Linked DNA regions of Homo sapiens. The protein of the gene in region 1 interacts with the protein of each later gene in a pairwise test. Each region holds a gene or a part of one and is shown in the gene's direction. Other genes may lie near its edges.

Evidence for each region.
Region 2: the proteins of TMEM51 (region 1) and PTPN5 interact in binary tests that used the Homo sapiens proteins (3 or more experiments, as listed by UniProt).
Region 3: the proteins of TMEM51 (region 1) and TMEM254 interact in binary tests that used the Homo sapiens proteins (3 or more experiments, as listed by UniProt).
Region 4: the proteins of TMEM51 (region 1) and CYP4F2 interact in binary tests that used the Homo sapiens proteins (3 or more experiments, as listed by UniProt).

The regions. Positions count from the first base shown.
Region 1 is NC_000001.11:15,149,539-15,156,751, forward strand, and holds the start of TMEM51 (transmembrane protein 51), read left to right. Parts: upstream 1-4,208; 5' UTR 4,209-4,416; intron 4,417-7,213.
Region 2 is NC_000011.10:18,732,786-18,739,820, reverse strand, and holds part of PTPN5 (tyrosine-protein phosphatase non-receptor type 5), read left to right. Parts: intron 1-1,856; coding exon 1,857-1,941; intron 1,942-6,185; coding exon 6,186-6,265; intron 6,266-6,448; coding exon 6,449-6,586; intron 6,587-7,035. UniProt on the Homo sapiens protein: May regulate the activity of several effector molecules involved in synaptic plasticity and neuronal cell survival, including MAPKs, Src family kinases and NMDA receptors.
Region 3 is NC_000010.11:80,081,635-80,088,669, forward strand, and holds part of TMEM254 (transmembrane protein 254), read left to right. Parts: intron 1-5; coding exon of another isoform or gene 6-107; intron 108-206; coding exon 207-310; intron 311-510; coding exon 511-570; coding exon of another isoform or gene 571-574; exon of another isoform or gene 575-583; intron 584-4,596; coding exon of another isoform or gene 4,597-4,636; exon of another isoform or gene 4,637-4,832; intron 4,833-7,035.
Region 4 is NC_000019.10:15,877,502-15,881,088, reverse strand, and holds the end of CYP4F2 (cytochrome P450 4F2 precursor), read left to right. Parts: intron 1-1,191; coding exon 1,192-1,325; intron 1,326-1,420; coding exon 1,421-1,485; intron 1,486-1,660; coding exon 1,661-1,743; intron 1,744-2,152; coding exon 2,153-2,318; 3' UTR 2,319-3,066; downstream 3,067-3,587. UniProt on the Homo sapiens protein: A cytochrome P450 monooxygenase involved in the metabolism of various endogenous substrates, including fatty acids, eicosanoids and vitamins.

The DNA.
Region 1 (7,213 bases):
CTCTACTAAAAATACAAAAAATTAGCTGGGCGTGGTGGTGTACGCCTGTAATCCCAGCTACTCGAGAGGCTGAGGCAGGAAAATTGCTTGAACCGAGAAGTCAGAGGTTGTAGTGCAACCTCTGCACCACTGCACTCCAGCCTAGGTGACAGACACTCTGTCTCAAAAAAATAAAAAATAAAAAAAGTGGTTTGTGTAGTATCATCATATTTAGTGCCTTTCTCGGTGAATGATATAACTTGGACGTTCTTCCATGTCAGATAGCTCTACCTCATTCTTTCTGGTGACTTCATAGTGTGCCAGCATGAGTCTATGCCACAATTTACTTAGCATAGCTCCTAGTGCTGGGCATTGAGGTTGGTGACCACTTTTCACCGTTACAATTAATCAGCAATGAAAACCCTTGGACGTTCTGTTCCTGAGCACATGTGTGAGTTGTTCTGCATGATGATCTATTTCTATAAGCTGATTTTCCAGCCTCACTTTCATTGATGTGCCTGGAAAGTCAGTAGCATGACAGACTGGGGTCTTGGTCACTAACCAGGGACAGTCGAATATTTTAAAACTGTCGTTATTTACCCATTCAGCCAGAAAGAATAAAAATGTAATGCCACGGGAATTCTCAGAACAGCATCCTCTCCTCTTTGAATTCAGGCTTTCAGAACTAGACAGGCTAATGCTCCCACAACTCATGTTCAGGCCACACTGGGTACTTTGTCACATACTAGTTCACCTGATCCCCGAGTTGGTCCTGGAAAATAGGTATTATTAGCATAGAAATGCTAATAATTTTTTTTTGACACATGAGGAAACTGAGGCTCAGAGAGGACAAGACATCTGCCCAGGGTCACACAACTCACAAATAGCAGAGGATTCAGAAACCAAAGACAAAGGTGATGGAATCCTGCCTTCTTTCTAAATCCGTGATGTAGGCTAGATCATGGTGCCTCTTCAGAAGTTTACAGTGGACAGTTAGCCAAAAAAGCAGGTGAAGTGAACATCTGCCTAGGTGACTGAGTTTGCAGGATGTATTAGTTTCCTCCCGCTGCTGTGACAAATTGACCCAAACTTCATGGCTTAGAACAACACAGTGAACTATCTTCTTACAGTTCTGGAGGTCAGATGTCCAAAACGGATCTGCAAATGCCTTCCCACCTTCAAATCATAAGGCAGACCCAAACTTGCCTTTTTGTGGATGCCAAGAGCTCCTTCTGGATGCTCTGGCTGACACTCCATTCCTTTCCTTTTCTAGCTCCTAGAGGCTGCCCACATTCCTTGGCTACTGACCCTTGTCCAGCAACTGTATCATTCTGATCTCTACTTCTATCACCACATCTCCCTCTCTAACTCTGACCCTCCCGCTTCCCTCTTGTAGGAACCCTTTTGACAACATTGGACCCACCAGGAAAATCAAGGATAACCTCCCCGTCCCAACATCTTTAACTTGATCCCATCTGCAAAGTCCCTTTTGCCACGTAAAGTAACCAGTTCTGGGGATCAGGTTGTGAACATCTTTGGGCAGCCATTATTCTGCCTATCACAGAAGGGGGTTCCTAGCTTAGTGATTTAGAGCAAGGGCCCTGCAAAGACCCCAGATTCAAATACTTTGTCACTTGCTAGCAGATCCAGGTACCTAACTTCTCTGAGTCTTAACAGCCTCATCTGAAAAACTAGAATAATAGAATCTTCCTTCTAGGGCTGTTTTGAAAACCAAAGAACACAATGTATGCAGTGCACGTGAAACACAGGGTTCAATAAATGGTAGGGAAGATTCAGAGAAACTAACCATGTAGAGGGAGAGGGCTGTGGAGGAGAGGAGGATAAGGAGAGGCATGCTTCCTTTGGTAGCTTCTTCAGTTTTGCCTGGGCCTCAGCTTTGCCTGAGAATTTCGTCAGTCTCTCCCCAGATCAGCCAGGGTGAGCCTGCTTAAATGGAACACTCTGAAGATGATATCCTGTGATAAACAAGACCTGCCCAGTTGAGTCTGCAGCAGAGTGGGGCGGGTCTGGGATGACCCTGGCATGGAAAAGTACAGCAGCTCTTTGTCTTCAGATTAGGAGCTGGGACAGCTGTTCTGACATGATCACCCCCCGCCCCCACCCCAGGCCTCTCCAAAGTCCATCTTGCAGAGTCAAATGAAAACCAGATTCCTGGTCTTATCTGAGAGCTACGTGACTGTTTCCTGTCACTCCTTTGGAGCCTGGGAAGGTCCCCACATGCATTGTCTAAACTTTGGGATGAATACGCACAGCTCTTAAATGGGAGCATATTATTATAGGTACCTGCCTACACAAAGGGTCCTCCCTATTCACTAAAATCATGGGTTATTATTTAGGGCTTTCATTCATCCAACAAATGTTTATTCCGCATTTGCAGGTGGCCAGGCAAGGTGAACATTCTCTCAGGGTGGAGAGTATGTGCAGACAGGAGGAATTATGCTATGGGAGGGAGAGCAGAAGCTCTGGAGTGGATCATCTTGGGTCTAGATCCTGATACTTCCCAGCTGTGTTTTCACTGGGCAAAATGACCTCACCTCCTTAAGCCTCAGCCTTCTCTTCTATAAAGTGGGCATAACAAATAACCGCCTCCTAGGTTATGAGGATTAAATGAGATGGTTCAGGGGATGTGGGTGGTAACCCCGCCCCTGGTTCATAGCAAGGATGTGAGGAATAGCAGTTGCTGTCATAGACATGGAGACTGTTTCCCCAAATGCCTTCCCACCCCCAAATCATAAGGCAGACCCAAACTTGCCTTTTTGTGGACGCCAAGGTTCTGTCGAGCTGTTAGGGTGCAAGTTAAGAAGCCAGAATGGCGGGCTGAGGGGAGAAATGCCCGCATGTTACAACTCTGCAGGTGTACACACGTGGACACCATATGTACCCATGAATTCCGCCTTTGGAAGTGAACTTGATTGCAGCCTATTTTCGTCTGGAGGCGGTGGATTCCCGGTAGGAGGCGCCTTCAGTCCTCGGCTCGATCCTGTGACGCCAGCCAGCTGCCTATCGGCTTCTCAGTGTTTGAACTTCAAAGGGCTGGACGCTCACCCAAGAAGGGGACCCCGGCCTGACCTCTCTCGGAATTCAAAAAAATCTAAGGCTCAGAGAGGGAATGGGAGCTGGCTCTTCCCTCTGTGTTTAGCATCCACGTTTTTTGGCGGTCTGGCTGAAACCAGCCCACCCTAGTTCGGGCGCCAGAGCAACGCAGTTCCGAGGGCAGATCTCCAAGGGGCGGAGGCAGAGCCGCGGGTGAGAGGCTTCCGCGCCGACTTCGGGTTTGCACTCCCCGGAGCCAGAACTCCGTGGCGGCTCCGGGCCTCCGTGGATCCGAGCAGAGACTGGCTGCCCGCCTGCCACTCGCAGGCTGGGAAAACGCCAGCCGGTGCCTCGCCGGGAAAGTTCTCGGCAAAGCTGGGGATGAGCCCTCAGCAGGGCAGGCTCCCGGTGCAGCGCGCCCCCATCCATTGCCCGCGCGCAAGAACCCGGAATGGGCCCCACCTGGGCCGGGACTCGGGCGTGCGATCCCGAGGGCGCCCTGGGGACCACGCATCGGGTGGGGACCCTGGCCGAGGGCGTGAGCTGACTCAGTTTTTAAAAACTCGCTTCCTCCTTCCCTACTTGTGCCGGTCACTCACCTCGCTGGGAACCAGCCCAGGGCAGAAGGGGGAGAGGGAGGCGGTGGCCTCCCCAGGAAGGAGGAGAGGTGAGTATCCCGCCAGGTAAAGGCGGGGCGGCTGGCGGAGCTGTGCCTCGGCGTCTGCGCCTGGTGTGGGAGGAAAGCGGGTCTCCCAGCTCCACTTAAACCCCTAAAACCTGGGACTTCTAGCTTGAGACATTCCCCGACCACCACCCGTCACACACACGCGCGTGCGCGCACACACGCATGCACACCGATTCTCTGGGCCCTAGGGAGGAGGGGGGATCAGGGCTCTATTTTCTCCCGACCCCCTCTTATCCAACTCGGCTGGCAAGGGTTGGGGAGAACTTAGGCCCAGCCCCCGGCACACGCTCAGCGCGCTCCAGCGGCATACGCTGGGGAGTGGGTGCCCGCCTCGCTCAGCTGCGATCCCTCGCCTCGGGCCCGGGGGTGGTGCCGAGGGCCGGGAGGGAGGGTCGGCCGGTGGGCGGTGCTTCTCCGGGCTGGAGGCCGCTCCTGGCCGGCACCGCCCTCCGCCTCCCGCGGTCCCTCCCTCCCGCACGCCGGCGCTCCCAGGCCGCGCTTCCTGCGTCCCCAACCCGGTCCCTGAGAGGGCAGTGCGCCCTCTCCACCACTGCGTTCCCTCGGCTAAGAATCCCCCGAACCCCAGCCCCGCGATCGCGGCGCCCACCGAGGAGGCCGCCCGGGTGGGGCGCGGGGGTCGCGAAGCCCGCAGTCCCGGACCGCCCAGCCGAGACGGAGCCGGACCCGCCGCCTCCCGGGTGAGTCTCAGCCGCCGCGCCTTGCGCCCGCTGCTTCCCGCGGCGCGCTGTCGGTTCCCCACAGGGCCGTGTAAGGGGGCCGAGGCCCGTTTGGGTCTCCTGTCCGTCCGTCTGTCCGCCGAGCGCTTCCCGCCTGGGGTCGACCACCGGGAGGACTCCGCACCCCGCACCCTCTGCGGCCGCGCCCCGCCGGCGCGGGACGCTCCCGCCTCCCGGGCACCGCGCCTGGCCAGCTGGCCTCGGCTGGGGAAGGCAGCTGGCCTTGGGGGCCCCCTGTTGGCGGGAACAGGTGCTATCCGCCCGGCGGGCTTCGAACCCTTGGCTTCGCCAGAAGCGCTTTCAGCGCGTGGTTAGGAGCAGAACTTCCCAGTAGGTCCCAGGAAACCACCTTGGCGCTTTGCTCGCGCATCCCTTACTGTATGGAAGTCGGGGCCTTTTAGGGATTTAGATTCGTGTGTGTGTATGTGTGTGTGTCGCTCTACAAGCAAACACGGGGGTAAAGAATCGGGCATGAGCAAAGTGGATTGAAACTCGAGTCCTTCCCTGAGCGCGTCGGTTTCTTCATCTGTGAAACTGACATGACAACGTCCCAGGGTGCGGCGGGGCATTCATGCCCAGCACCCAGCAAGCACTCAGCGGTAAGTTACGTTACCGGGCCTAGGGGAGAGCAGAGTACAAATCAGATCTCAAATCAGCGCACAAACGGGAGGCGCTTGGCCCGGCGCGCCTGGTCTGCATTACAGGATAATGGTCTCTTTCCCAACCAGCGGTGGGGGCGAGAGACCTGGCCCCTCCCCCACGGTTTCCCCAGGGAGCAGCCCGTGGGGTGTCCTGCGCAGCGCTCCGAGGTGCCTGTGACGGTGCATGGGACTGCGGGTCCTTCCCAACAGCAGGGGAGGTCTGGCTGCTGGGAACCCGGGCGCTGCCGGAGTGGGGTGGGCGGGGACGAGGTGGGCGGGGCAGGGACCCGAACCGGGAGGTAAGTCAGCGGGTGGAAGGCTTTCCCCTCTAGGACCGGCCGGCTTCTGGCTTTCCTTTTGAATGGGTTACCCGGAGAACAGCTTGTCTAGGGAACTGTTGGCCCTGGGACCGTGAACAGCTTTCACACCCCGGAAACCTGTCACAAGAGGATCCTGACCTATTGGGACAGAGCCCCTGCCCCTCCAAATATCTCACTCCACCAATTGAGAGGTACCCCCAGACTGGGAGAAAAGGCCAAAGAAAGAGAGAGGAGGCTAGTGGTGAACCTGCTCCTCACGGCTTCGGAGCTGACAGCTCTCTGATGGGGTGTCTGGGGCCTGCCCCAGTGACCCAGAGCCCAGAAGCCTCAGGGAGCCCCCAGCCTAGTGAGGGAGTCAGGGATACTCATGAAAAGTGTTGCAGAATTGGCGATACAGTCAGGCCACACCACTTGCTGGCTGTGTGACCTGACCTCTCTGAGCCTCAGCTTCTTCATCTGTAAAATGGGATGATGATCTCCAAGGGCGAGGTGGGGTATTTATGCCTAGCACATGAAGTATTCTATAGTAAGTTATGTCACAGGGCTTAGACGAGAACAGAAGAAAGGAAATAACTCAGGAGGTCCTGCTAAGAAAAGAGTATTAGAATATTCATCAGGGAACTGGAGTCCCCCCAGGGAACAGGGGAGGAAGGGTGTCTGGGCAGATCGAACAGCACAGGCAAAGGCACAGCGACAGGAGAGTGCCTGGGGTGTGCTGGGCTGGGGAAGGTGCTCAGGCAGTGGAGGGTGTGGAAAAGTAAAGGGAATGGAAGGTCCGGAGTGAGCTGGACTGGACAGGTGGGGGCTTTCTTGGAATCATTCAACATATGTTGGCCGAGCACCTTCTGTGGGCCAGGCGCTGTTCTAGGTGCTCAACAAAGATGAACAACATGGAGAAAGACGTCCCTTTCATTCAAGTTCTCTAAGCAGGGAAGTCGTCTGATCCCATCCATATGTTAAGAAGATAATCCTGGCTGCCTGGAAGTTGGCGAGGATCCTAGAGAAGACTCCTAGGAGAGAGAGGCTGGCCTGTGGGTTGGTGGGGGCAGTGGGAATGAATGGGGGAGCTGGAGGAGAGGCCCATACAGGAAGCAGAGAGTAATGTGTGGCCTTCACTCATGACTGTTGGTCAAGGGTAAGATTCTGGGGTTCTACATGAGGCCCAAACTGCCAGCCTGGTCCCCTGCCAGAGAGAAGTAGTGAGTGAGTGTCTGGGGTATTGGCAGGACCCAAGCCCCTCCAGCTGCGACTCTCCGGCTCGCTGGCTCCAGATGTCACGAGGCCTGGGAGTTTCTCTGTCTGCGTGAGGGATGGGAAAGCTGGAGGCAGAGGCCAGCTGGAGCTTCTGGGGCTCCCGTTTTAATAGGTTGTGTTTCTGGTCAACGTTCCTCCCTCCCTCTGCAGGCCTGGCTGTAAACCCCTCAGGCTTCTTGGGCTGGAAGAGGCCAGAGTGTGAGGAGCTTTAGTGTGGATTCTCTTCCCCCAGCCCCAAATTAAGGTGGGAGTCATGCAAAAGAGAAGCATTGTCTCCCTCGGTGCTGGGAAAGTTTCAGAAGCTCAGGTGTCTTCTGACTTGGGATGTGGTATGGGGGCTGCTGACTTTTGCTTTCACTTTTGTTTCTGCTCTGAAGCTGGGAGGAATCCTCCTCTTGCAGCGAAAGCTGTGAGAATATCCTTCTCCATGCTTCAAGTCTCCCTTTGCTTGGAGGGAAAAGGAAGGTCCTAGAATGTCTCAGGTGGAGGGGACCTTCAGGTCATCAGAGACATCATTCTCATTTGACAAACAAAACTCAGAGA
Region 2 (7,035 bases), on another chromosome or scaffold:
GGGGCTGAGGCTCCAAAGCTCCATTCCTCAACCAAATTCACCAAACAGGTAACTCCTCACTTCTGTGAGCAGGAAAAGGCAAGAGGCCAAGAGTATCTGGGGTGAGTTCCTCCTGGTAGAAGCCACAGGGGTACAGAAGCAGGTGCCTCCTCCCTCATAGCTCCCTTCCTTTGGCCTCCGCCCTGGGCCTGTCTGGACCGGGTAGCTCTCCCCTGTGAGAAGACCTCCATCATCATCTGATCTGCTGCTCCAAGTTCTCCAGAACTTGGTACCACCTGCATACACCATCAGCACCCCTTACCTCGTGTGGCCCCAGCCTCCTTTTCCAGCCTTATGCCCCATGCCCCACCCCTGCAGGGACTGTCCACTTCAAACTGGGCCAGTCTCGTCCGTGCCTTTCTCCTCCTGTGCCTTTGCTCACATCATCACTCACTCCAGATGCCTCTAGAAAGCCTTCTTTAACCACCCCAGCCTCAGCTCCTTCTCTGAGCTCCCACTGCCATCATCTCCCCTTCGAGAAAGAATCACATCCTCTACCTCATTTCCTGTCCGGTGGGTCTTTGTTGAGGAAGGAGCGTGGCCTGAGCACCCACTCTGGGGGCAGTTTTGCACGTGTTGTATTTTTATTTTGATTTTCACAATCCTGGAAAGTGTGATGATCCTCATTTTACAAAGCCCATACTTAGTGTGTCCAAAAACAATGAACAGTGTGAAGTTAGGTGCAGTCAGGGGCTAAGCTGGTGGACAGACTGGAAGGAAATGCAGAGGCAAGAGGCATGGAGAGTCATCCCGGAAGATGTCAGGAGGAGACAGACTCATAGGTGAACTTTTTTTTTTTTTTTTTTTTTGAGACAGGGTTTCACTCTTGTTGCCCAGGCTGGAGTGCAGTGGTGCGATCTTGTCTCACTGCAACCTCCGCCTTCCAGTTCCAAGCGATTCTCCTGCCTCAGCCTCCCTAGTGGCTGGGATTACAGGGGCCCGCCACCAGGTCCAGCTAATTTTTGTATTCTTATTAGAGATGGGGTTTCAACATGTTGGCCAGGGTGGTCTCAAACTCCTGACTTTGTGATCCGCCTGCCTCGGCCTCCCAAAGTGCTGAGATTACAGGCGTGAGCCACCGCGCCCGGGCAGAGGTGAACTTTAAAGGGTGGGAACAACTTGGAGAGATGGGGGTAGGGGAGACCAGCGCCCTCAGGAGGCAGAACGTCACAAGCTCAGACTCAGAGGCAGGACTGAGAACAGCAGATTAACAACAGGGGAGAAACAGGCCTAACTGGAAGTAAAGAGAGGCCAGATTCAAGAAGCCCTCACATGCCAGGAGAGAAGTTCAGACTCAGAGCTCTGGACACAGACAGTGGTTGGGAGGTGCAGATATTCCTGGGATCTCAGAAAGAGGCTTCTCTCCTTCTGGAGAATCAGGGAAGGCTTCTCAGAGGAGGCGGGACATGAGATGAGGATGGGGTGTGTGTTACCACAGAGCAAGCAGCACGAACCTAGGTCCCGAGATAGGGATGCCCAGGGAGGAATGCTGCCCAGGGAGCATGGAAGAAGGCAGCCATTGGCCAGGTCACTTTTTGTCTTTTTCTTCATTCATCAGCTATTTATTGACTGTCTATATATGGCAGGCTGGCTCTCCATAAACAATAGTCATTATCATATTTATTACACACTCAGCATGTGCCAGGCACTGTTCTGAATGCGTCGTGAGCACTAACTCTCTTAATAGTAAATGTTTGTTGAATGAATGCGTGCACTCAAGCCAGCCCCTGGGCTAGGAGTTGGGGGCACAGCAGCCCCTGGATTCAAACATCTGTGAGGGCCCATAGCTGCTCACACCCCGTGTCCTCCTTCCACAGGAAATCCCCATGAACTTTGTGGATCCGAAAGAGTACGACATCCCTGGGCTGGTGCGGAAGAACCGGTACAAAACCATACTTCCCAGTGAGTACTCACTGTCCCAGAGGGATGGGGGCAGGCTCAGCTTCACCTGGGGATCCCCTCACCCTGAGGAGGACCCTCAGCTGGGCCTCTAGGGGTGACAGGACTGGAGGAGGTGGGACAGAGGGCTGGGGGTTGCTGGCTGAAGGGAAGCGCTGCCCTGGTGAGGCCAGAGGCGAGTACATTTCCTCGCACAGCACTCTCTGGTCCTTTGCCCTGCCTGGCCACATGTTGTGCTGGACCCTCTAGAAACCCAAAGAGAAAGGGTGGTAATGACAGCAGTTCCTAGCCACACTGTGGTAACCGAAACTCTTTTCAGAGTGGGCAGATTTTAAGGAAAGGAAGTTAAGGCTTAGAGAGGTTAAGTGGCTCACCTGCAGTCCCACAGCTAGGAAGTGCAGAGCTGAATTTCAGACCTGGGCCTCTGTGATCCCAGAGTCAGGCTCTCTGTCTACACTGTGTGGAGTGTGGTCGAATTGTAAGCCCTCTAACAGGGACATCCACTCCCACAGGCAAATGAGTTGTCTCTGTCAGGGAGTGAGCTCCCCATTACTCAGTATATTCAAGTGAGGCGGCACGAGCAGTCCCCTAGAAGGTCTGAAAGGGGTTTTCCTCCTTTGGGGGCAGTTAGACCAGGTGACCTGATGCTCCTCTTTCAGCCCTGGGGTATCATTTTCAGATAACTTTTATCAAGCCTCGATGAGCCTGCCACCCTCGCCAAGTTCTGACCCCAGTCCCCAGGGCTAGCTTGGGCGTTGACTTGTTGAAAGTGAATCCCCATAAACCTACTCCATTCAGTTTGTGGAGTAGCGAGGCTTTTAAAAAGCAGTTTTGCCATCAGCATCTCCAACAACATGTAAGATGTCATGACTTATTTTTAACTTTTAAAATATCGACTTGTAGTTGCTATGGTTACACAGTCTCTAGGTAGTTCCGGTTAAACAAAGAGCCATTTAAGGCCAGGATGCATTATTCAGGGATGCTCACCTCTTCCCTCGTCTTGCCCTCCCCGATCCCAGCCCTACCTGGAGGGAGGGACTCGAGTATCCTAGAACCTTGGACTTTGCTGGCTGCTCAGAATGGCCACTGGGGGAAGGTGGGAGCAGACTAGGATTCCGTGCAGATGCAGTCCCCGCTGCATTCCAAGAGGCTTGAGCTGCCTCCAACCATGCCCTGAGCCTCCAGGCCCCCGAGCCCAATAAAGAATCTTGTCTGTGTCCAGCAAGAATGGAGCCTGTGCCCTCAGAGACTGGGTTGGGGGGTGCAGAGGGCAGGTGAGGCTGAGCAGAGGCTGCCTCTGAGATCCAGGACGCGCTGAGGTTTGTTCTCTCATTCACTGGGCACACATTTCCTCGGCTCCTGCCCCAGGGGCTGAGGATTTAGACATAAATAGGACACAGACTCTGTGCACAAGGAGCTTCCAGCCTAGCGGGGGAGAGAGGTCCATGCACAGTTACAGTCAGAGTGAACAGTAACCCACAGGCAGCATTGAGAACAAGATGCTGGGAGCAATTTCTGTCCCCTTCTCCGCCGTGTCCCAAGCATCAAAGCAGTGCTGCCTGGCACATGGTAGACATTCTGCACCTATTTGGACTGTTTTAATTTTTGTAGAGATGGAGGTCTTGCTCTGTTGACCAGGCTGGTCTCAAACTTCTGGCCTCAAGCTGTCCTCGCCTGCTTCGGCCTCCCAAAGTGCTGGGATTATAGGCATGAGCCACCATGCCGGGGTCTGCACCTATTTGAATGAATGAATGAATAATATCTCTCAAATCTACATCCTCTTCTCCAGCCTCACTGCCAAATGATGTTTTTGAGGTTAGGGCTTTCATGTTGTCCAATTCCAGGGGACACAATTTACATAGACTACATTGACATAAGTGCCCCCTGGAGCCGTGCCAGGCTGGACAGCCCTGTGATCCTTGACACTTCTTACTTGGATCATTGCAGTAAACCTCTAACTGGTCTTCTGGCTTCCACACTCTCCTCTCCATCTTCTACCATTGTCACCAAAATGAGGCAAAACAAATCTAATTGTGTCATTCTCTTCCTTAAATGCCATCATTGTTGTCACCCTCGTAATCCTCAGGTTTAAGTCCAGCTTTTTTTTTTTTTTTGGGGGAGACAGAGTCTCACTCTGCTGCCCAGGCTGGAGTGCAGTGGCACAGTCTCGGCTCACTGCAACCTCTGCCTCCTGGGTTCAAGCAATTTCTGGCTAATTTTTGTATTTTTAGTAGGAACAGGGTTTGACTGTGTTGGCCAGGCTGCTCTCCAACTCCTGACCTCAAGTGATCCGCCCACCTCAGCCTCCCAAAGTGCTGGGCTTACAGGCTTGAGCCACCACGCCCGGCCTAAATCCAGCTTTCTAAGCCTGGTTTATAAGACCCTTTGTCGCCTGGTTCCTCTCCAGCCTCACCACTCACCACTCCCTACCCTGCACTGTGCACGTGAATCTGACAGAACAGCATTGCCTGCAGACAAGGAGAAGGGAGACGGCCCATACAGAGCTTCCTGCCCCTCTCTGCTGCAGGTCCCCCAAAAGCCCCCCTCCCGTTTACCCTGTCTCCTCTCCATCCCTGCCACCCTCTACACCCCCTCTTCACAAGAACTGCCCCAAATCACCTGCCAAAACCTTAGACATTGGGGTTGGGCTAAAGAGGCGAAGCTTGTGCCCTTTACCTCCCCAATTTCTCCTACTGGGTTTAGGATCCTTCTTTTTATCCTTTAACTTGTGGAACTTGTAATAATGTCAGGAATAACAGCAACTGATACTTCGTGTTGGTCCTAGTTACTGGCATAAGGACTCTAGTTGTTAAAGTTAACTCCTTTACAAGATAAGCAAGGTCATTGTGGAATGACCATCCCCAGATTACAGATAAGGCACAGGGAGATAAAGTAAATTGTCCATGTTGACACTGCTAGTAAGTCAGAATCAGGATTTGAACCTAGCCTCTCTGGCTCAGCGGTGTAGACTCTTAATGACTCCCCTATACTGCCTGTGAGAGCCTCCTAATGTGCACACTGGAAGTGCCTTTAGTCCAGTCCTCCCTATTATAGGAAAGAAACTGAGGCCTGGACAAGTGAGCTGATGACAAAACTAAACCAGAACCCAGGAATCTGGGGCCCCAGCCAGCTTCCCCCTTACCCCATACAACCTCAGTCTTGGCCTCTGCAGGCTGACAGAATAGTCAATGCAGAGAGGCTGTAGCTGGAACAAAACAAAATCTACTCCAGGAAGAAGAGCAGAGTGGGGGCTGGGCACAGTGGCTCATGCCTATAACCCCAGCACATTGAGAGGCCGAGGTAGGAGGATCACTTGAGCCAGGAATTGGAGACCAGCCTAGTCAACATAGCAAGACCTCATCTCTACCAAAATAAACAAATAAAAATAAAAAAATAAATTTAGCCAGGTGCAGTGGCTCATGGCTTAGTCCTGCTTACTCAGGGGGTTGAAGCAGGAGGATCACTTGGGCCCAGGAGTTTGAGGCGGCAGCGAGCCATAATCGTGCCACTGCACTCCAGCTGAGTGACAGAGACCCTTTTACTATGGGATTTGACATGTGAATAAATTGAAAGGAAAAAAAACCTTTTTGCATATGTGGACATGAGGCTGAGACCCCACAGTCTTAATCCAGATAGAGGAGACTATCGTTTTCATGTTAATAGCCTCCGTCAACTTTCTACTCCCGAATCTTAACAGCCCTTTATATTTATAAAGCACTTTACAGTTTACACAGAACTTTCACATCTCTTTTCTCATTCATCTTCCCAACAGCCCAAGCAAGTAGGCATCTTTGCCTCCATTTGACAGATAGGAAAACTAAGGCTTAGAAAGGCCATGTGTTTTACAAGCCTACACAGCAAGTCAATGACAGTGTGTACTCAAGCTAGCTGTCTCTTGCTGAACAAGATCTGTACAGGAATTTCCCTAGGTAATTCCATTGTTGACTTAGCTGTCTCCTCTCCAGAAGCTAAGATGCAGTGAGTATAGGGCAACTTAAGAGGCACAGGCTAAGGATAGAGACAGAGGTAGAGACCCGGGGACCCCCCTCTCTCTCCACCCTCCTCCTCATCCTGAGTCCTCACCTACAAAATGAACCATGAATGGGTCAATGTTTTGCTGCTGGGCAAGGGAAGGAAGAACTGCTAATGTCGCAGAAGAAGTGTGGGTATGCTGGAATAGGCCAGAGCAAGTGGGTCCTGCACCAGAGGGCCCAGTTTCCAGCCTTACTTGTCTCCCACCACCCCAGACCCTCACAGCAGAGTGTGTCTGACCTCACCAGACCCTGACGACCCTCTGAGTTCCTACATCAATGCCAACTACATCCGGGTACGTATTCCCACCCTGACGGCCTCTTGCTCAAGGGGAGGCCTGAGTCGATGGGATCCATCCTCCAGCCTTGTCCCTACACCAGTCTGGCTCCTGCCAGCTCCTGTGAAGAGCCTGAGTGTGGGGATGGGGTCCTGGGAGCACTGCCTCTGACCCTGACAGCCTGGACTTGGCTGGCCGCAGGGCTATGGTGGGGAGGAGAAGGTGTACATCGCCACTCAGGGACCCATCGTCAGCACGGTCGCCGACTTCTGGCGCATGGTGTGGCAGGAGCACACGCCCATCATTGTCATGATCACCAACATCGAGGAGATGAACGAGGTAGGGACCCCCGTCCCCATTCTAAGTGTCTGCTACATTGCGCCCTACACTAAGTATCTTGTTCTCAAATTAATCTTTATGACAATCTCAAGAGGTCGGCGGTGTTCACTCCGCTGCCAAGATGAGGAGATGTGAGGCTCGGTAAGGTTAAGTCATTTGCCCCGGGCTTCACAGATAGAGGCATGCCTGGAGGTGGCCTCTCCACTTCCAGTGCCCGTGACCTTAAACACAGCACTCTGCTGCCTCCCAGCCTGCCAGGACAGATGTTGGCTACTCCTGTACCCATAAGGGCCCATTTAACCGAATCTCCATAAAAGTCCTTCAGATGGGTAGCACTTCTGTTTTCCAGAGGAAGAAACTGAGACTCAGGAAACGGAAGTAGCTTATAGAGTTTGCAGCTGAGATTTGAACCCAACACTCTGTAGCAGCAACCCTGTTGCCCTTGTGTA
Region 3 (7,035 bases), on another chromosome or scaffold:
TCCAGCCCCAGCAGCGGAGTGAGACCCTGTCAAAAAAAAAAGAAAGAAAGAAAATAGAAGCCAAGAATGGAGACCCAAATGACTGTTCAGAGTTTCTTCGGTCTGTGGTAATTTTTTTACTGTTTCACAGCCTTTCTCAAAAACAAAAACAAAAAACAGGTTTTAAGTGACCTAATAGGTATTCTGTGTCTCTGCTTCTCTTTCAGTGGGTTGTCTTCTGGCCTCAGAGTATCCCTTATCAGAACCTTGGGCCCCTGGGCCCCTTCACTCAGTACTTGGTGGACCACCATCACACCCTCCTGTGCAATGGGTAAGGAGAGCTGCACAAGTGGACTGTGGACACTGGAGCTCTGGTCTCATGGGAAACCTGGAAGGCCTGCAGCTGCCTTTTGGTATCTAAGAGTAGTGTCGGTTCACCTTAAGGCACTTTTCTTTTTGAGATTGCTGTGTTAGATTTCATCAGCAGATAACTATCACCTTAAAAAAGATTAACCTTTTTTTTGGTTTCAGGTATTGGCTTGCCTGGCTGATTCATGTGGGAGAGTCCTTGTATGCCATAGTATTGTGCAAGTAAGTCTTTGAAGTAGGTGTTTGTTGCCTTTCTCTTAGTAGCTAATATAAATTGAGAGCAGCCACATTTAAATAGTTCACACACTTGTAGGCTGAGAATATTCTCAGGGTAGAGCGGAATCCCCATGCCTGATACTGAGCCTGGAGCAGAGGCAGTACCCAGTAAATGTTTGATGAATGCATTCATTTTGTTTATGTTGGTTAACCAATTACTTAGTTATCTAATTCAGATGACTTTTGTTATTTTTTAACAAATTTTCTGGGTAGCCCCAACTAGATCAAAAGACTAGGAATAGGAGCCTGGCTTCTAGTTTACAAAAGAGCTAAGTGACTGACCTAGGCCGATGACTCACAATCCTCGTTTTACAATTGAGCCACCTGAGGAGCTTTTTCAAAATACACACGTCTGGTTTCCAGACCCAGAGATTCTGATTGGGTAAGTCTTGCCTCAGAGATAGGAATGTGCTCTTTTTAAAAGCTCCACAGATAATTCTAGGATGCAATGCTAGTTAAAAGCCCCCAAACCAGACCCCACTCAGGAGATGCTAGTATAGGTTAATGCTATGTGAGAATACAAGAAAAAATTATGTTTGTACTTTATATAAGCATATACAGAAAGTATGGTACAATGAAAAACATGGTTATGGAAATGCCAAATTGCTTCTTTCCAATTAATTTCTGGTCAAGATAATAATTAATTGAATTAATTTCTGGTCAAGATATACTATCACCTCTATTATTTTTCTATTCTAAAAGTGGAAAATAAGATACTGTATTGCTATTACTATGTTTCAATAATAAAAATAATATTGATTGGGTACTGCTATGTCAGAGACTGCTAAGTATGTTAAATAGAATGATCTTACTCTGTTTTCTTGTTTATTAAACAAATAAGCTAGACTTTTTTTTTTTTTTTTTTTGAGAGGGAATCTTGCTTTGTCACCCAGGCTGGAGTGCAGTGGCGCAATCTTGGCTCCCTGCAATCTCTACGTCCTGGGTTAAAACGATTCTGCCTCAGCTTCCCCAGTAGCTAGGATTACAGAAGCCCACCACCATGCCTGGCTAATTTTTGTATTTTTATTAGAGACGGGGTTTCACCATGTTGGCCATGCTAGTCCCGAACTCCTGACCTCTCAGGTGATCCGCCTGCCTTCGCCTCCCAAAGTGCTGGGATTATAGGCATGAGCCACTGTGCCTGGCCACAAGCTAGACTTTCTATGAAGAGGAGCAGAAAGTAACTTTATTCTTTCTTTCTCACCCCTCTCCAAGTAAATTTGTTTTGTAGATCGTTCCCCACCTTCCACCGTATCTCTGGATGGAATTTCAAACAGATCGTAGGATTTCCAGTCACCATCTGATATTATCTATTCTAGCCCAGTCTATTGTTAAAACTATAAACTTTCTTCTAATTCAAAATGTCTGTTTTCATCCAGCTGGGGCTCAGGAGCCTGCAGTGGGGAGAAGGGTGCAGTTGATATCTTCTCTTGCACTTCACCTTCTCCTCTATTCACTAATAATCGCTGCTTGTGGTCCCTTGGGATAGTGGGAATAGTTAGGGAGAACAAGGCTCAGCCTTAAATAGCTGCTGCTGGCCAGGTGCAGTGGCTTACACCTATAATCCTAGCACTTTAGGAGGCCAAGGTGGGCAGATCATTTGAGACCAGGAGTTTGAAACCATCCTGGCCAACATGACAAAACCCCATCTCTACTAAAAATACAAAAAATACTAAAAAAGCCAGGCATGGTGGTGCGTGCCTGCAGTCCCAGCTGCTCAGGAGGCTGAGGCACGAGAATCGCTTGAATCCGGGAGGCAGAGGCTGCAGTGAGCCGAGATCGCACCACTGCACTCTAGCCTGGGTGACAGAGCAAGACCCTTTCTCAAAAAAAATAAAAGTTAAAAAAAAACAATAAACAGCTGCTGCCTTGTGATCAGGCAGCTAGGTACTGTGTATATTGCATATCCAGTATTGGCTCTTTCTCTCTAGAGGGGATGTGGTAGATTTTTGAGACACTACTCATCACCAGGGATCTCCCTTCTGCAGTTTCCTTGATGGTTCATTCAGACACCCCCTCCAGCATGCCACTTGCAGTTTCACCCTCAGAGTCTGTGTTCTAGGGAGAATTACCCTTTTATTGAGATCACTTCCGTCCTTCAGGTGGGTCTGTGGTACAGGGTCCCTTTTAAACCTACTCATGTTCAGTGCCTTCTCCAGGATCTGTATGGCTCACAGTAAACAACTTCCGTATCCCTCCAGTGGGATAATCTACAAGTGCATGCAGTTATCAGTGTGGCGGTGCTTCCTTCTCTCCCAGCAAGCAGACCAAACAGTGTTTACTCTTTGGAATCAGATATTAAACCCTTCCCCAAATTCCAGAGACTCATGTCAAGCTCTACAAATGGTTCTGTTGAGGCCATTCTCTGGGCTTGACTTGTGGGAAATGCCACAGCCCACTAGGACCTCTTTCCAATGGCCTCTGCAGCATCGCAGTAGAATCTCAGATTGGAAGTGTCCGGTCCAGCCCCTCAACTTGGAATGTAGGAGTGCGTGACACCTATTTTGTTGTTGGCATTTGGAGTATCTGATGAAAACCAAAATACAAAAATTTTTATTTTTATTTTTATTTATTTTTTTCTTTTTTGAGACGGAGTTTCGCTCTGTCGCCAGGCTGGAGTGCAGTGGTGCAATCTCAGCTCACTGCAACCTCTGCCTCCCTGGTTCAAGCGATTGTCTGGCCTCAGCCTCCCAAGTAGCTGAGATTACAGGCGCCCGCCACCAAGCCTACTTTTTGTATTTTTAGTAGAGACAGAGTTTCACCATGTTGGCCAGGATGGTCTTGATCTCTTGACCTCGTAATCCGCCCACCTCGGTTTCCCAAAGTGCTGGGATTACAGACGTGAGCCACCGCACCCGGCCCTCAAATTTAATATACAATTTTTTTGAAGGGCAGAGGGAGAACAGGCATAGAGGTTAGGTTACTCTTATGTTCTTGAAATCATTTATGGTCTAACATGTTAGAATGTATCATTAGTCACTATGAATCAGAATAAATATTCCTTTTGAATTATGAGATGAGTTGGGTACGGTGGCTCATGCCTGTAATCTCAGCACTTGGGGAGGCTGAGGCAGGCGGATCACCTGAGGTCAGGAGTTCGAGACCAGCGTGCCCAACATGGTTGAAACTCTGTCTCTACTAAAAATATGAAAAAAAAAATTAGCTGGGTGTGGTGGCACATACCTGTTACCCCAGCTACTCAGGAGGCTGAGGCAGGAGAATCGCTTGGACCTGGGAGGCGGAGGTTGCGGTGAGCTGAGATCGTACCACTACACTTTAGCCTGGGCGACAAAGTGAGACTCTGTCTCAAAAAAAAAAAAGACAAGAAAAAGAAAGTGCCATTTTTGGTGAGGTGAGGGGGCAAAAAACCTTTTGCTATTTTGGTAGATTAAAAAGGGTATCTAGCCATTTTAACCTGTATTTATTTGATTACAAAGTAAGGTTCAACTCTTCTTTGAAAGGTGCTGTAATTCTTGTTACATAACAATACTTTAACAAGAAAAATAGAATGTTTTTTCCTTAGGGATAAATAAAATAGTATCTCTTTGAGGCCAATATTCATGTTCATTGTTACCTTTTTATAGTCTGGAGTTCCATTCAGAATATATGGCTTATTCTCTTAGTTCAGAAATTAGATTCTTGCTGCTTGCATACCCCAGTTGGCTCTGCAGCCCTTAGAAAGGTTTTTAAGGTTTTGCAAAAATTTGTATGTAGAGTAGATTTTATTACAGTGTAGAAACAGAAAAGAAGTTCTTGACAAGTAGAAGTACTCTGTGACAGGGCAGCCTCGAATGACCAAAACAGGTAAATTGTGAAATTTTTCAAGTATCAGAGGTAACATTTTTTCTTAAGGCAGGAAAAAGTGTACTCACAAAGAGATTTTTGCATCTGCTTGGGTCTTGGTGGAATCATTAAGGGAAATGTGAATTAAATTAAGAAAACTTTCTTAAAAGACTTTTGTCTTTTAAATAGGCAAAATGAGCTAAGAATACGGATAAAGGTATGTGAATGAGAACAAGTTATGATGACCCCAGGAAAACCCTTCTCCGGGTTACCTAGCCACCAACTGTGACCCTTCTGAAGGAGGAGGAAACAAGCACTGCTGTTCAGTGAGCCTGCTCTTCCAAGATGGCAACTCATCTTTATTTTTCTTTACTAAATATCATACACATTTACAGGATCATATAAATTTACTTTCCAAAACAAAATATTTTTGTTGTTTTGCCTATTTCAAAACAAACATGTTTGTTTTTAAAAGTTAATAATGTTGTGCTAAAAACTCAGCTAATAAAATTGAAAGTTGGCTGGGCGCGGTGGCTCACGCCTGTAATCTCAGCACTTTGGGAGGCCAAGGCGGACGGATCACCAGGTAAGGAGTTTGAGACCAGCCTGGCCAATATGGTGAAACCCCGTCTCTACTAAAATACAAAAAATTAGCCGGGCATGGTGGCGGGCACCTGTAGTCCCAGCTACTCAGGAGGCTGAGGCAGGAGAATCACTTGAACCCAGGAGGTGGAGGTTGCAGTGAGCCGAGATCGCACGACTGCACTCCAGCCTGGGCAACACAGCAAGACTCCATTTCAAAAAAAAAAAAAAAATTGAAAGTTGCTGGGCATGGTGGCTGATGCCTATAATCCAATTATATATATATACATATAGATATAATCTCTTTCATAATTGGTTTCCATTGTTATATATGCCTGTTTTAAATTTTATTTTGTTTTTTAAGAGATGGGTCTCACTCTATTGCCCAGGCTGGCCTTGAGCACCTGTGCTCAAGTGATCCTCCTGCCTCAGCCTCCCAAGTAACTGGGACTACAGGTGTGCCACTGTACTGGGCTAACATATCCCTATTTGTCTATGTCTATACATATAAACTTACCCATCCATTAATAACAGTGCATAGTATTCTGTTACATAGATGTGCCTTAACGTATTTAAAAAATCTTTCTTCTGATGGACTTTTAAGTCTCTACTTTTTTACTATTACAAGCAATATGGCAGTGAACATTAATTTCTTGCATTTGTCCCACTTTGGTATTTGTTCCCTTAGAAAAAAATTCCAAGATCTGGAATTTGAAGATTAAAGAATGAATACTTTTGGCTGGGTGTGGTGGCTCACACCTGTAATTCCAGCACTTTGAGAGGCTGAGGCTGGTGGATCACCTGAAGTTAGGAGTGCGATACCAGCCTGGCCAACATGGTGAAACCCTGTCTCCACTAAAAATACAAAAAAAAAAAAAAATTAGCAGGGCGTGGTAGCGGGCACCTGTAATCCCAGCTACTCAGGAGGCTGAGGTAAGAGAATAGCTTGAATCTGGGAGGCGGAGGTTGCAGTGAGCTGAGATCACACCACTGCACTCTAGCCTGGGCAACAGAGCAAGACTCTGCCTAAAAATAAAACGAATGACTACTTTAAATTAAATGATATGTATTGCCATATTGCCTTCAAAAGTATGGAACTAATTTATTCTTCTAACATAAATATATGATAGTGCCCATTTCCCCACAATCTCACCAATACTCTTCAAATGGGCTGTCTGTCCTATTCTTACCTGTTTATAGGCACTCCTTGTTTTTTATGATCTTGAGTACTTTGTCCTTTAGGTGTCTTGCAAATATCCTTTCTCACGGTCTTTTTATTCTGTTGGGCCTTTTGATAAACAGAAGTTTATCAATGTAGTCAGTTTTATTAATTTATTGATATTAAAGTTATATTCTTTTACAGTATCTTCTAACAGTTTTAGAATTTTTTTCTTTCACATTTAAGTTTTCAGTCTACTTAGATCTTATTTTTTTTTAAGATCTTTACCTTTTCCATCTGGATGCCGTTATCCCAGAGCTACTTATTGAGACATTCAGTCTTCACTGATGTGCCCTATCTTATATCATACATACTGATATGTGTGGATCTATTTCTGAACACTCTATTCTGTTCCATTGGCCTGTTTATCCTTGGGCTAACACAACACTGTCTTAATAGCAGCAGCTTTATAATCATTGTTATCTGACAAAGCATCTCCTCTCATCTTGTTCAATAGGATTGCCTTTGCCTACACCTTTGCATATTCTGTGCATTGTCTTGTGCCACAAAAACAAAAAATAAAGATGTTGAGATTTTCATTGGATTGACCATGTGAAATAATTTGGAGAATATTGGCATATTTCCATTATGTTTTTTTTCTTTTTTTTTTCCTTAAGGTCAGGAAAGCATCAAATATTTCTATTATTGAGTCTTCTAAATGATGAAATGATCTGTTTCCATTTATTTAGATCTCCTTTAATATATATATAATTTTTAAGAGGTTTTACACATTGTTGTTACATTAATTTCCAGCAACTTCTACTTTGAGATGTTATTATAAATGACTTTTTTTTAAAAAAAGATGGAGGGTCTCCAGGAGGCTGAGG
Region 4 (3,587 bases), on another chromosome or scaffold:
AAACATCTTCCCATCAATGTGTATGTGGCTTGTTTCCAACCTTTTGCTAAAAGTGGACATGAGGCAGTCAGCATGTGTGCACAGTGACCATTCCTTGCATGTATAAGCATCTCTGCAGGACAAATTCCCTGAAGTGCAATTGCTGAATCAAAGAACATTTGCACTGTACAATTTTAATTATCATTGCAAATCCTTTCCTATTAGCTGAGTTTGATGGCACAAGTTTTCCCATAACTTTACCAATACTACTAATGTATTATTAAATTTTAAAATCTATGCCAATCTTCATATTTCTTCTTTTGATGGACATTGTTTTAAATAAGAGTGAGGTTGAACATCTCTTTCACGTGTTGATGTTTGTTTCTTTTTATGGAAGTGGTTCCTTTATTTTTTTGCTCTTTTTCTTTGGATTCTTTAAAAATATTTACTTTTAAGAATGTGTATTAAAATTGATTTTTTTTTTTTGAGATGCAGTCTCTATCGCCCAGGTTGGAGTGCAGTGGTGTGATCTCAGCTCACTGCAACCTCCACCTCCCAGGTTCAAGCCATTCTCTTGCCTCAGCCTCCCGAGTAGCTGGGACTACAGGTGCCCTCCACCATACCCCGCTAAGTTTTTGTATTTTTAGTAGAGACGGGGTTTCACTGTGTTAGCTAGGATGGTCTCGATCTCCTCATGTTGTGATCCACCTGCCTTAGCCTCCCAAAGTGCTGGGATTACAGGCATGAGCCACCACGCCCAGCCAAAATTGATTTTTTTTTTTCTGTCTTGGGTTGCAAAATATTGCCTTTCAACTTTTGGAGGGTACTTTTCATTACTATCCTTTATCTGCAAAAACTACCATCTTGAGCATATTCAACTTCTGTGAAGTTAAATTGATCCACTTTTTTCTTTTACAACTGTAAAATCCATCAGTTTCCCAGGATTTTGGTTTGAGCAGGGGCTGTCTTTATCAAATGTGAAGTTTTCACTTATTCTCATGTCTTTTTCTGAGCTCTCCCTCATGTTCCATGGGTCTGTTTTCTCATTTTTGCCACAGTGCCACACTATTTTTATTCTTGCGACTTTGTAACAATTCTTGTTAAAAGTTTATTTTATTGCGGGGAGAAAAGGTCTCACTTGCAAACAGAGAGAAGCTGGAGAATTGTGTCTTTGCTCCCTTGATAAGGATTGGGGCTGGGGTGTTTCCTTAGGGACGACCTGGCCCATTTGCCCTTCCTGACCATGTGCATGAAGGAGAGCCTGCGGCTGCATCCCCCAGTCCCGGTCATCTCCCGCCATGTCACCCAGGACATTGTGCTCCCAGACGGCCGGGTCATCCCCAAAGGTGCTCACAGCCTCACGGGGAGGAGTCTCCTGGGTAGGAAGAGGGGCCCCTCAGTGAAGGAGGCCTTCTCCTGACTGCTCCCTTCTCTCCCACAGGCATTATCTGCCTCATCAGTGTTTTCGGAACCCATCACAACCCAGCTGTGTGGCCGGACCCTGAGGTGCGGGGCCCCTCTCTCTGTTTTTGTCCATTCCAAGGCTCCTAGAGGAGGGGGCAGGGTTTTGATCAGGAGTATCCAACATCACCTCCCTCAAAGACACACACAACTGTCTGTCTCTCCAAGGCTGGCGGACTGGGAGACCCCACCCAACAACCCTTCTTGGTCTCACCTCCAGGTCTACGACCCCTTTCGCTTTGACCCAGAGAACATCAAGGAGAGGTCACCTCTGGCTTTTATTCCCTTCTCGGCAGGGCCCAGGTAAGGGCGGCCTGTGTCTGAGGTGGGAACGGGTTGATGGGTGCAGGGGTCTGGGCATGACAGTGGGGAAAAGGGGGACATTGTAGATGGTCCAAGTTCCAGCTCTCTTTCCCTCACCTCCTCTGGAGTTTATAGGAAAAGGTCCATAGAGTACGGTTGGGTTGGTCCTAGAAGGGTCTGTGGTGTGCTCAGAGCCCCCTCCTACCCCACCTTGGTCTAGGCTGGGGGTTGGAGCTCGGCTAGGCTTGCAGGATATGCAAGCCCGCATGGGGATCCAGGCACGGATACCCCCTTCTCTATTCCTCAAACTGCTCTAGGTGGGGTTGGGTGTCCCAGGCCAGGTTACCGGCTTGATGGGGCCAGGATGGGGCTCCTGGGTGCAGTCAGAGTTCCCACCTCCCTCCCCTAGGAACTGCATCGGGCAGACGTTCGCGATGGCGGAGATGAAGGTGGTCCTGGCGCTCACGCTGCTGCGCTTCCGCGTCCTGCCTGACCACACCGAGCCCCGCAGGAAGCCGGAGCTGGTCCTGCGCGCAGAGGGCGGACTTTGGCTGCGGGTGGAGCCCCTGAGCTGAGTTCTGCAGAGACCCACTCTGACCCCACTAAAATGACCCCTGATTCATCAAAAGTGAAGCCTAGAATTACCCTAAGACCCTGTTCCACAGTCCTGTATTCCATCCTAGATATCTACTCAAAATAATTGAGACAAGTGTTCAAACAGAAAGACGCTTGTGCGTGAATGTTCATGGCGGCCCTATTCACAGTAGCCAAACGATGAAAACAACCCCAAGCTATATATTACCAGATGAAAGGATAAACAAAATGTGGTCCATCCATACAATGGAGTATTACACAGCCATAAAAAGGAATGAAGCAGTGATCCCTACTACACTGTGGATGAACCTTGAATGCATGATACTGAATGAAAGACGTCAGATGCAAAAGGTCACATAGTGTACTGTCCTTTTATACGAAATTTCCAGAACAGGCCAATCTGAAGAGATGCATAGCGGATTGGTGGCTTTCAGCAGCTGTGGGGAGGTGGGACTGAGGAGCGACTGCTAATCAGTATGGGGTTTCCTCCCGGGATGGTGAAAATGTTCCGGACCTAGATAGTGACGAAGGTAGCACGACACTGTGAGTGCACTAAATGCTATTGAATTGGACACTTTGAAATGGTGAATTTCGTGGTATGTGAATTCTACCTCAATCAAAAAAATTTGCTATTTTATCTCACATACATTTTTTTTCTGTCCAGGTTGTTCATATAATAATATGCTGTGAGCATCTTTCCATGACATTAAATCATCTTAGGAAACATTATTTTGTGGTCCTCAAAATGTGTGTGTTAAGTGTTCAAATCAGTCTTAATTTAAAAAAAGACATCATATTAGAAAATAAAAGTGTTTTGTCTCACTTTGTAAGAATTAGCTTCATATACATTGACTATTAGTAACAAATTGAGTTATTCTTCATCAAGTAACTTTTGGGGTAGAGATCTCATTTTCACAGCAATAGATGCACAAATATTCATGTAAGATACAGGTGTGGTTAGACACCTTTCATAGAACAGTTATGATCTGGAAATTCCACAGACACTGAATATTTTGGTCGTATTAACAGAAGTAGATCACTGAGAAGGGAGAAGGTGACTTTTCAGCTCCCCCAGGTAAATGCTGATTTCATCCTCACATCGATCTTACAGATTGTAGATGAACTCACTTGTTCAAGGTCACTCAGTGAAGGGTGGAGTCAGGGGTGAATCTGAGCAGTTGGCATCAGAGGTCATGCCTTATCGTATCAAGGACATGATTTTCAAAGCGAGTCTCAGCCCTAGGCACATC